Homo sapiens: one gene and its partners. The protein of the gene in region 3 purifies or fractionates together with the protein of the main gene of each other region. This does not show direct contact. Each region holds a gene or a part of one and is shown on either strand. Other genes may lie near its edges. The genes, in order: ARB2A, PIP4K2B and TAOK2.

Region 1 (4,264 bases), on a different chromosome or scaffold from region 3:
GTGGCTGCTGTGGAAAAGAGTGTGTCAATTCCTCGAAAAAAAGTATACATATAGATATATATACATATAAAATTTCCATGTGATCTAGCAATTTCCCTTCTGGAGAGATATCGAAAAGAAATGAAAGCAGAGAGTTGAACAGATATTTGCACTCTCATGTTCATAGCAGCATTATTCACAATAACCAAAGGATGGAAACAACCCAAGCATCCATGGATGAATGAATGGATAAACAAAATGTATTAACAGCATATGCACACAATGGATAATTGTATTTCACCTTAAAAAGAACATTCTGACACACGCTACAACATGGACGAACGTTGGAGACATTATACTAAGTGAAATAAGCCAGTCACAAAAGGTCAAATAGTGCATGATTCCACTTATATGAGGTACCTAGAGTAGTCAAATTCATAGAGGCAGAAAGTAAATTGGCAGTTGTCAGGGGCTGAAGGTAACAGAAAACGAGGTGTGAGTGTTTAATAGGTATGAAGTTTCAGTTGGGGATGATGAAAAACTTCTGAGTGAAAAATAAAGTTGGCATAGTACAGGGACATACTCCATACTTAGTTACCAATGACTACTGTGCAAACCCAATCTGACTCTAAAAACAGAGACAGTACAAGTTGTATACAACTGAGTAAATAGTGCTTACTTTTGTTAGAGCTCAATGAAGAGCACAGAAACATCTCTACATATCTACAGACACCAGATTCTCCTCAGAGGTTTGTCTGGGAAAGCTGAAAAAAATAAACTGTAAATAAATAAAATCCCTCATGCCACCAAATCAAGGAATAAATATTCATTCTTGAGATTGTTAAGTACTGCTACCTCCATGCCTACATCCTTGCTATTCCAAATATATCAAACACGCTCCTGTCTCAGTGCCTTTGTACTAGGCCAACTCATTCCTCCATACTTGCGGAGCTCACTCCCTCATTTCATTCAGATCTCCACTCAAGTGTTCCCTTATCAGAGAGGGTGAGCTTACCACCCTATCTAAAATAGCATCCTCTATCATTCTCTCTCCCCTTAATTTATTTTTCTCTATACCTCTTTTTTTTTTTTTTTTTTTTTCTGGAGACGGAGTCTCGATCTGTCACCCAGGCTGGAGTGCAGTGGCATGATGTCGGCTCACTGCAACCTCCGCCTTCCCGGTTCAAGCAATTCTCCTGCCTCAGCCTCCAGAGTAGCTGGGAATACAGGCGCACGCCACCACACCCAGCTAATTTTTTTGTATTTTAGTAGAGACGGGGTTCACCGTGTTGCCCAGGCTGGTCTCAAACTCCAGGGATCAGGCAATCCGTCCGCCTCGGCCTCCCAAAATGCTAGGATTACAGGCGTGAGCCACCGCGCCCTGCCTTTCTCTATACCTCTTAATCACTACTTGTTATATATTTACTTGTTAATTATACGTCTCCATCCACTAGAATGTAAGTTCCAGGAGCAAAAGGACTTTCTATTTTGTTTACTGCTGTCTTCCCATCACCTGAACACTATCCGGCACACTGAAGGTTGCCAGTAAATACTTGCTAAATGGATAAACAAGTGGATGCTCATGGTTTCATAGATAATATTTCCCTCTTGGCCTTGGTACTATTTATTCTACCATATGGAGCAGCCATAGCCTGAAAGCATCCAGAGCATCCTTAACTTTTCAGCGTAGGATTCACTGGTTAAGTGGAAGTAAGGCCTAGTTGAAAATTCTGAAAGAAGCCTGGTACCAGCACTGTCACTGAGGCCTTAACGAAGCAGATCCAAAAATACTCTCTTACTCAGTTTCTACATTCGCTAAATGTATACAGTGTAACCGTCCCTCGCATTGTAGGATAAAGAATACACCTTATCAATGAGATATTTGTTATGCAGTATATGGCATGCGTTAATGCAAACGATGTCATGTACTACATTAAAAAATCGCACTGATATTTTGATAAATATACAATGCACTTGTAGATAAAAACCAGAGAATTTTTCCCTCTACAGCTTTTTTGAGGATTTGGGAGAAATGGACAAATGCAACAACATTGCATGTCATTAAATACAGTATATCCAAACACAACGAGTTTCTTGGCCCAACAGATATAGACCCTGGAGCACTATAAGAATATGTTAAACACCTGGATGAGGGAAAGAGAAGACTGCTTCCAAAACATACTTACTTTATTTCAAAGTCAAAAGTATTCAACACTTAATTCATACTGCATCCCAGAGAAACGTCCCACCCGCGCCCATGCATGTTACAAGTTTTGAGAGCATTTTATAACTGCACTTTAATCCCTCTGCAGTGAATGACTTCTGGTAAAGCGCTGGCAGTTAATAATACTTTTTGTAGAAAAAAAAATTAATACAACAACCACAATACCTCCACTCGCAAGAAAGCGGAGGAGGGCCCATTACTCTGTCTCCAGGGACTCCCAGAATCCCGTACGCCCCGACATAAGGAAAGTCATCCAGGGAACACACACGTCGCTCCCGCCTAGAGAGTGGAAATGGAACATGGGACCTGCCCATCAGCGGAGGCCCAGACACAAGTCAGAGGTGTCCGCAGGGAATGCAGCGTGGTTCCAGACAGCCTCGGTCCCCAGGGCCAGCGACCACCGCCTGAGACCGACCCAGGCCAGCCCCCTCCTGATTTCGACCCGGGCCTGCCCCCGGAGCTCACATCCCCGCAAACGGCAGTCCTACCTGAGCTCTGCCCCCAGCCACAGGGCTGAGGGGGCAGGCGGGAGGAGGCGTGGCCTTCCAGTTCGCCAGTCGAACTCCCTCGTGCGGTTGTTATGACTTTCCCTCTCGGGATCCGCGCCCCGACCAAGTTCGAGTTGCACTTCCGGGGTCTTCAGGAGATTGATACGTCATTACGCACTTGACGGCAGCGGCGGCGACAACCCGGAAACGGGCGGGGCGCGGGCCCTGGGTAGGTTCCTGTGGTATTAGGTGGACTGGAGAAAGAGGCCCGCGTGAATTAAGTGTAGTTCTCTTATGCACTGGCGGACTCTGGTCGCCCTTCCTTGTGAAGGCTGCCTGGGTAGCCGTAGAGGACGAGGCCACTCTAAAGCCTCGTTTTCCCAGCGGAATTTTAACTATTCTAAGGATGTCCTTACAGCCAGTTCCCCACTCCGCTACTCAGAGTGTGTCAGACTTTACCCTGTCCATTCAACTCCAGAAAAACCGGGAGGTCTAGATTCGGAAGATTAAATTTACCTTTGAATTAGGACATGTAAAATAGGAAGTTAATATTAGCATCCTAATGACAAAAGTTTTCTCGTTATCATACTTGACTCAAATGGGAATCTTACGGATATTAATGTTTTTTCCAGAAACAGGTTTGAAAGGTATTTCAAGGATAAATCTGGGGAAAGGGATGGAAGCAACTGATTTTTAATTTTTAGATAGTACTCTCAGAGCATTTATTTAGTCCAAAACTGTTAATTTAATGAATTAGGCTAAACTAGACGCTGGGGTAACAAAGCTGAGTTAGATACCCTCTCCTCTGAGGCAGCTAAAGAGAAGGAAAGTCTGGTGGCTGACAAGTAAACCAACAGTTATGTTCTTCAGAGAGGAGATCTCAGACTCTCTAAGGTATACTTCACTTCCACACTGTTTGTACTTTGCAAATGTACCCTGCCCCCTAAAATGTAAACTCACTGATGGTAGTGACATAATCTTGTCTTTTTAATGTATCCTCAACCATACAACAGTGCCTGTCCACAAAGTAGACAATAAATACTTATTGAATGACTGAATGATCACAGTGGTAAATAATAGATTGGGGAAATCTAGAAAAGTGTATAGGACAAGAAGAAAGTGGTGTAAGTAAGTGGCGGGAGATAAGGAGCAGTAAAAGGTGAGAGAATCCACTGGAGTTAGCCAGAACTGAGTACCTGAATGAATCTCGGGCATTGCAAGACTGTTAGGGCTTCATTTCCGGAAAGAACTCAAATGGTTTGTAGAGTGACACTTTATACTGAAGAGGAAGGCAACAGCCAGATTCTGAAAAGCTTTCTATGTCATGCTGAGTAATTTGATTTTCTGCTGCAGACAATTGGGGAAGCTGAAGGATTGTTGAACAGAGGAGGGAAACATTTTTATTTTGGTGGACTTTTGCAACAGTGACAGATTATATTAAAAAGATAAGGCTCCCAAAAATGTATAATCCCAGTTTAACCATGAGAAAAACATCAGACAAAATACCTGACCAGTACTACTCCAAACAGTTAAAGTCATGAAAAACAAGGAAAGTCTGAGAAACTGTCTGAGC
Region 2 (3,516 bases), on a different chromosome or scaffold from region 3:
CTCCCTGTGCCTGGAGAGTTACAGCCAGCAAGGTGCCCCCATCTTAGAGTGTGGTGTCCAAACGTGAGGTGGCTTCCTAGTTACATGAGGATGTGATCCAGGAAATCCAGTTTGGAGGCTTGATGTGGGTTTTGACCTGGCCTCAGCCTTGGGGCTGTTTTTCCTTGTTGCCCCGCTCTAGACTTTTAGCAGATCTGCAGCCCACAGGCTTTTTTGGAAGGAGTGGCTTCCTGCAGGTGTTCCACCTGCCTTCGGAGCCTGCCACCCAGGCCCTCAGAACTGAGCCACAGGCTGCTCTGGCCAGGAGAGAAACAGCTCTGTTGTTCTGCATTGGGGGAGGTACATTCCTGCATCTTCTCACCCCCTCAACCAGGAACTGGGGATTTGGGATGAGATATGGTCAGACTTGTAGATAACCCCAAAGATGTGAAGATCGCTTGTGAAACCATTTTGAATGAATAGATTGGTTTCCTGTGGCTCCCTCCAAACCTGGCCAAGCCCAGCTTCCGAAGCAGGAACCAGCACTGTCTCTGTGCCTGACTCACAGCATATAGGTCAGGAAAGAATGGAGACGGCATTCTTGGACTTCACTGGGGCTGCTGGATTGGATGGGAAACCTTCTGGAAGAGGCAGATGGGGGTCAAACCACTGCCTTGGCCCCAGGAAGGGGCCATAGGTAGGTCTGAACAACTGCCGCAAGACCACTACATGACTTAGGGAACTTGAAACCAACTGGCTCATGGAGAAAACAAATTTGACTTGGGAAAGGGATTATGTAGGAATAATGTTTGGACTTGATTTCCCCACGTCATAATGAAGAATGGAAGTTTGGATCTGCTCCTCGTCAGGCGCAGCATCTCTGAAGCTTGGAAAGCTGTCTTCCAGCAGCCTCCGTGGCCTCGGGTTCCTACCGGCTTCTCTGCATTTGGTCTGCTGATCATGTTGCCATAATGTGTATGGAAAGTGTAACACATTCTTACTGGTTAAAGACGACTACCAGGTATCTAACTTGTTTAACATTGAGTTTGTGTGTGTGTGTGTATGTTTGTGTGTTTTGTATATTGTTTACATTTTGAGAGGTAGCATTCTGTTTCAAATGCTTTTTGTTTTTCTGACAGTATTGTTGACTGGGTCATAACATTTTGAGCTGTGGTTTGGTGGATTTTCAATTTTTTTTTTTAAAGGTCATTCGCTGTGCTATCTTCAAAACCTTGAGTTTGGCCCCCAATTTTTGGCATTCAAATGTTTAAAAGCTATTTATCTTGGTTTATACAAGTTTCCTTTCTCTTCTTTTTGTCATGGTATTCTATTTGGTCTGCAGTTTGAATGTAGAGAAAGTGGACTGATCCCCCAAGCGTTGTCTGCCCCCACTCTTTCCTCCTTGGGTCCCGCCATTCTTTTACTGGGCAGTCGAGGGCATTGGAGGGGAAGTGACTGCCCTCAGCCTCACTCCCTGGGGCCATGAAGAAAAGCTAAACAGTCTCATGGCATCTCAGAATAATGTTGGGTCTCCCAAGAAGAAAGGTGTAAGAATAACGACATGGCTGATTAGGCGAGGCCAGGATAGGGCTAAGGCCAGGATTCCTGGCTGGCATCCAGTCACCCCTTCTCCCATCCTTCCCCCTCTTCTTCCACAAGTCCGCAGCCGAGACACTGTAGTCTCCCAGCCACAGTGATGAGTGCCCTGGAGACTCCACTGACCTCTAGATGAAGGCCCCTGGCCCTGGTTCCTGTTAATTAACCTCTGGGTCTTTGAGTCCCCCAGCACAAACTTCTTTCCTGTACCCTGCGGCTTGGGGTCACAGGGCATGCCGGGAAGCCACAGCTGAGGGGCGCAGACTGAAGCAGTGCTCCACCTCTCCTTCTTTAGCTCAGGGGTTGCTGGTCTGTGGCAGGCGCCACGAGTGGCCCCTGTGGCTGTTCTCAGTGGCAGTCTCTTAAGTTCCCACCACAGGCAGCTCTTTATCCCCTCTCCCTACTTGACTCTTTCTCTTGCCTGTGCTTTTGGCCTCAAACAGGCCTGCTGGTAGCGCTCAGGGCGTGAGGCTACACTCCTGCCCTGCCTTTCCTGTCTTCATGGTCTGCCAGGGCATACCTTGGGGAGGTGGACCAAAGACCCAGGACTTTTTGCAGTAGCCAGTCCTACCCCCCAGTTGTCTTTTTACCAATTCAGGGTGGGAGAGAAAACTGCAGCACCCCAGCATGTGAGTTACTCAGGTGTTGGGGGCTAGAAGGGACAGTGCGTTTAAACAACACTCAGAGCTCTGGCCTTAAACCTGTGGCCCCCCAAGTCTAGGAGCCTCATCTCTTCCTGGCAGTCATGCGGGCAGGAGGTCCTGAAAGGGAAAACCCATTCAGACAACTGTTCCCCAATCTACCAGCCATCTGCAGGGGTCAGTGACCGTGGCCCTCTCCCTCCTCTAGAATGTGCCACTTATGAAGAGTGCCCCATGGGGAAAAGGAGACTCAGCTGTCCCTTGGCAGCTTGTGCCAGTATCCCAGGGCAGAAGTTTCCACAGGAGCCTCTTGCCCTTGCGCAGAGCCACTGTGAGAGGCGGTGGGAGCCAACACCCTTGGGGGAGGGGGCAGTACTGCTCGGCACATCCCAGCATCAGGTCAGATCATTGAAATTAAAAAATGTGAATTAAGTTCATATCCACCTTTTGGGGAAGCAGGACAAACCACCACCCCACCAAGTGTGTGACTTCTCCATATCCCACTGCAGTTTCCATTTTTTAAATGGGAATTTTCAATCCCCTGTGCTTGTCTAACGTCTGCTTTAAAAAGTTTGAGACCCTGTTACTGTTTGAAAATGCATGCATGTTACGATGAATCTCCAACCTGAGGAAAAAAATAAAACTCAAAAAGCTTTGTGTACATCTGTTATGTGTGAGTCCTTGGGAAATGAACCTTTTTTTTTTCTTCCCAGAATTAAAAAGTTTTGGTCCTAGCTTTAGAGGCAGCTTCGGCTAAATCAATGTATGGCTTGAGTTTGGAGAAAGAATATGGTCAATGACATCCCGCTTTCAGATGCAATTAATAAACAGTGGTTAAAAGCACAGCACCACTGGCTGGGTTTGGTGGCTCACGCCCAGTACTTGGGGAGGCCAAGGCAGGAGGATCACTTGAGCCCAGAAGTTCAGTACCGGTCTGGGTAACATAGTGAGACCCCGTCTCTACAAAACAAGAATTAGCTGGATGTGATGGCACATGTCTGTAGTCCCAGCTACTCAGGAGGCTGAGGCAGGAGGATCACTTGAGCTTGGGAGGTTGAGGCTGCAGTTAGCCATGATTGCACCACAGCACTCCAGCCCTAGCAACAATGAGACTCTTAAGGAAAAAACAAACAAAACACCACAGCACCAGAGCCAATCTGCCTGTTAGCTGTTACTACCATGCACATGGAAGAATGGACAACCCCCCCCCCGCCCCCCCGCCTCCAGCTGTGTAGAACGAACTCTGGCTAGGAGCCACTCACCTGACATAACTTTGAACATGTCACCTCTGTGCACCTCA
Region 3 (2,663 bases):
GCGGCAGCTCCAGGCCGTGCAGCGCACGCGGGCTGAGCTCACCCGCCTGCAGCACCAGACGGAGCTGGGCAACCAGCTGGAGTACAACAAGCGGCGTGAGCAAGAGTTGCGGCAGAAGCATGCGGCCCAGGTTCGCCAGCAGCCCAAGAGCCTCAAAGTACGTGCAGGCCAGCGCCCCCCGGGCCTTCCACTCCCCATTCCTGGGGCTCTGGGCCCACCCAACACAGGCACCCCTATAGAACAGCAGCCCTGCTCACCTGGCCAGGAGGCAGTCCTGGACCAAAGAATGCTTGGCGAGGAGGAGGAAGCAGTTGGAGAGAGAAGGATTCTGGGAAAGGAAGGGGCCACTTTGGAGCCCAAGCAGCAGAGGATTCTGGGGGAAGAATCAGGAGCCCCTAGTCCCAGTCCACAAAAACATGGGAGCCTGGTTGATGAGGAAGTTTGGGGTCTGCCTGAGGAGATAGAGGAGCTTAGGGTGCCCTCCCTTGTACCCCAGGAGAGGAGCATTGTTGGCCAGGAGGAGGCTGGGACATGGAGCTTGTGGGGGAAGGAGGATGAGAGTCTTCTGGATGAGGAGTTTGAGCTTGGCTGGGTCCAGGGCCCAGCACTGACTCCCGTCCCTGAGGAGGAGGAAGAAGAGGAAGAGGGGGCTCCGATTGGGACCCCTAGGGATCCTGGAGATGGTTGTCCTTCCCCCGACATCCCTCCTGAACCCCCTCCAACACACCTGAGGCCCTGCCCTGCCAGCCAGCTCCCTGGACTCCTGTCCCATGGCCTCCTGGCCGGCCTCTCCTTTGCAGTGGGGTCCTCCTCTGGCCTCCTGCCCCTCCTGCTGCTGCTGCTGCTTCCATTGCTGGCAGCCCAGGGTGGGGGTGGCCTGCAGGCAGCGCTGCTGGCCCTTGAGGTGGGGCTGGTGGGTCTGGGGGCCTCCTACCTGCTCCTTTGTACAGCCCTGCACCTGCCCTCCAGTCTTTTCCTACTCCTGGCCCAGGGTACCGCACTGGGGGCCGTCCTGGGCCTGAGCTGGCGCCGAGGCCTCATGGGTGTTCCCCTGGGCCTTGGAGCTGCCTGGCTCTTAGCTTGGCCAGGCCTAGCTCTACCTCTGGTGGCTATGGCAGCGGGGGGCAGATGGGTGCGGCAGCAGGGCCCCCGGGTGCGCCGGGGCATATCTCGACTCTGGTTGCGGGTTCTGCTGCGCCTGTCACCCATGGCCTTCCGGGCCCTGCAGGGCTGTGGGGCTGTGGGGGACCGGGGTCTGTTTGCACTGTACCCCAAAACCAACAAGGATGGCTTCCGCAGCCGCCTGCCCGTCCCTGGGCCCCGGCGGCGTAATCCCCGCACCACCCAACACCCATTAGCTCTGTTGGCAAGGGTCTGGGTCCTGTGCAAGGGCTGGAACTGGCGTCTGGCACGGGCCAGCCAGGGTTTAGCATCCCACTTGCCCCCGTGGGCCATCCACACACTGGCCAGCTGGGGCCTGCTTCGGGGTGAACGGCCCACCCGAATCCCCCGGCTACTACCACGCAGCCAGCGCCAGCTAGGGCCCCCTGCCTCCCGCCAGCCACTGCCAGGGACTCTAGCCGGGCGGAGGTCACGCACCCGCCAGTCCCGGGCCCTGCCCCCCTGGAGGTAGCTGACTCCAGCCCTTCCAGCCCAAATCTAGAGCATTGAGCACTTTATCTCCCACGACTCAGTGAAGTTTCTCCAGTCCCTAGTCCTCTCTTTTCACCCACCTTCCTCAGTTTGCTCACTTACCCCAGGCCCAGCCCTTCGGACCTCTAGACAGGCAGCCTCCTCAGCTGTGGAGTCCAGCAGTCACTCTGTGTTCTCCTGGCGCTCCTCCCCTAAGTTATTGCTGTTCGCCCGCTGTGTGTGCTCATCCTCACCCTCATTGACTCAGGCCTGGGGCCAGGGGTGGTGGAGGGTGGGAAGAGTCATGTTTTTTTTCTCCTCTTTGATTTTGTTTTTCTGTCTCCCTTCCAACCTGTCCCCTTCCCCCCACCAAAAAAAGAAAAAGACAAACACAAATAAAATATCTGAGCGGAACTGTGCCTTTGGCCCAGGCTGCCTCTGTCTGCTTTGTCCTGCCGCCTAGCCTCCCCGGTATGCCCCCAGGCTGACCCTCGGCCCGGCTCCATGACCTCTTCACCCCATCTCCGTTATCTCAGCCCCCTCACTCCTCCAGCCTCATGCTCTCTGCCTTCATAGCTTCATTGCACCATGACCACCACCGGCTCTGGGGTCTGGGCCCCTGTAGAACTTCACCGAACTTCTTGGTCCCACAGAGCGCCTGTTTGCGGGTTCCTTCCAGAGGTCTTAGTTTCCAGGCCCTTGGTCTCCTCATCCCTTGCCTTTTCTCCCAACCATGGCTGCAGGGGACCAAATTGCTCTCCTGCATCAGGCATTACCCTAGTGGGTTGGGGGACGGGGCTGCAGACCCTCCACAGTAGGGGGTGCTGAGCTGGGGGCAACCAGGCGGAGTATGAAGGCTGTGGCAGCAGGATTGAGTGTGGGCCTGGAGTGGGAGCTGAGTGTGTGAGGGGCCGGGCTGGAATGCGGATCTGGTCAGGGTGGTAGCTGCTGGCCGGTTGAACTTGTCAGGCCCTTTCTGGCCACCTCCTTTGCCCCTTTCTCCTCTGCGGCCCAAAATGGGGCAGCCCCTT

What was found.
Region 1: the proteins of TAOK2 (region 3) and ARB2A purify together in Homo sapiens (affinity purification with mass spectrometry; one large-scale study listed by BioGRID and IntAct). This does not show direct contact.
Region 2: the proteins of TAOK2 (region 3) and PIP4K2B purify together in Homo sapiens (affinity purification with mass spectrometry; one large-scale study listed by BioGRID and IntAct). This does not show direct contact.

The regions. Positions count from the first base shown.
Region 1 is NC_000005.10:94,108,820-94,113,083, forward strand, and holds the start of ARB2A (cotranscriptional regulator ARB2A isoform 1 precursor), read right to left. Parts: upstream 2,845-4,264; 5' UTR 2,692-2,844; exon of another isoform or gene 2,369-2,691; intron 1-2,368. UniProt on the Homo sapiens protein: Plays a role in the regulation of alternative splicing, by interacting with AGO2 and CHD7. Seems to be required for stabilizing protein-protein interactions at the chromatin-spliceosome interface. May have hydrolase activity.
Region 2 is NC_000017.11:38,765,052-38,768,567, reverse strand, and holds the end of PIP4K2B (phosphatidylinositol 5-phosphate 4-kinase type-2 beta), read left to right. Parts: 3' UTR 1-2,877; downstream 2,878-3,516. UniProt on the Homo sapiens protein: Participates in the biosynthesis of phosphatidylinositol 4,5-bisphosphate. Preferentially utilizes GTP, rather than ATP, for PI(5)P phosphorylation and its activity reflects changes in direct proportion to the physiological GTP concentration.
Region 3 is NC_000016.10:29,986,348-29,989,010, forward strand, and holds the end of TAOK2 (serine/threonine-protein kinase TAO2), read left to right. Parts: coding exon 1-1,633; 3' UTR 1,634-2,011; downstream 2,012-2,663. UniProt on the Homo sapiens protein: Serine/threonine-protein kinase involved in different processes such as membrane blebbing and apoptotic bodies formation DNA damage response and MAPK14/p38 MAPK stress-activated MAPK cascade.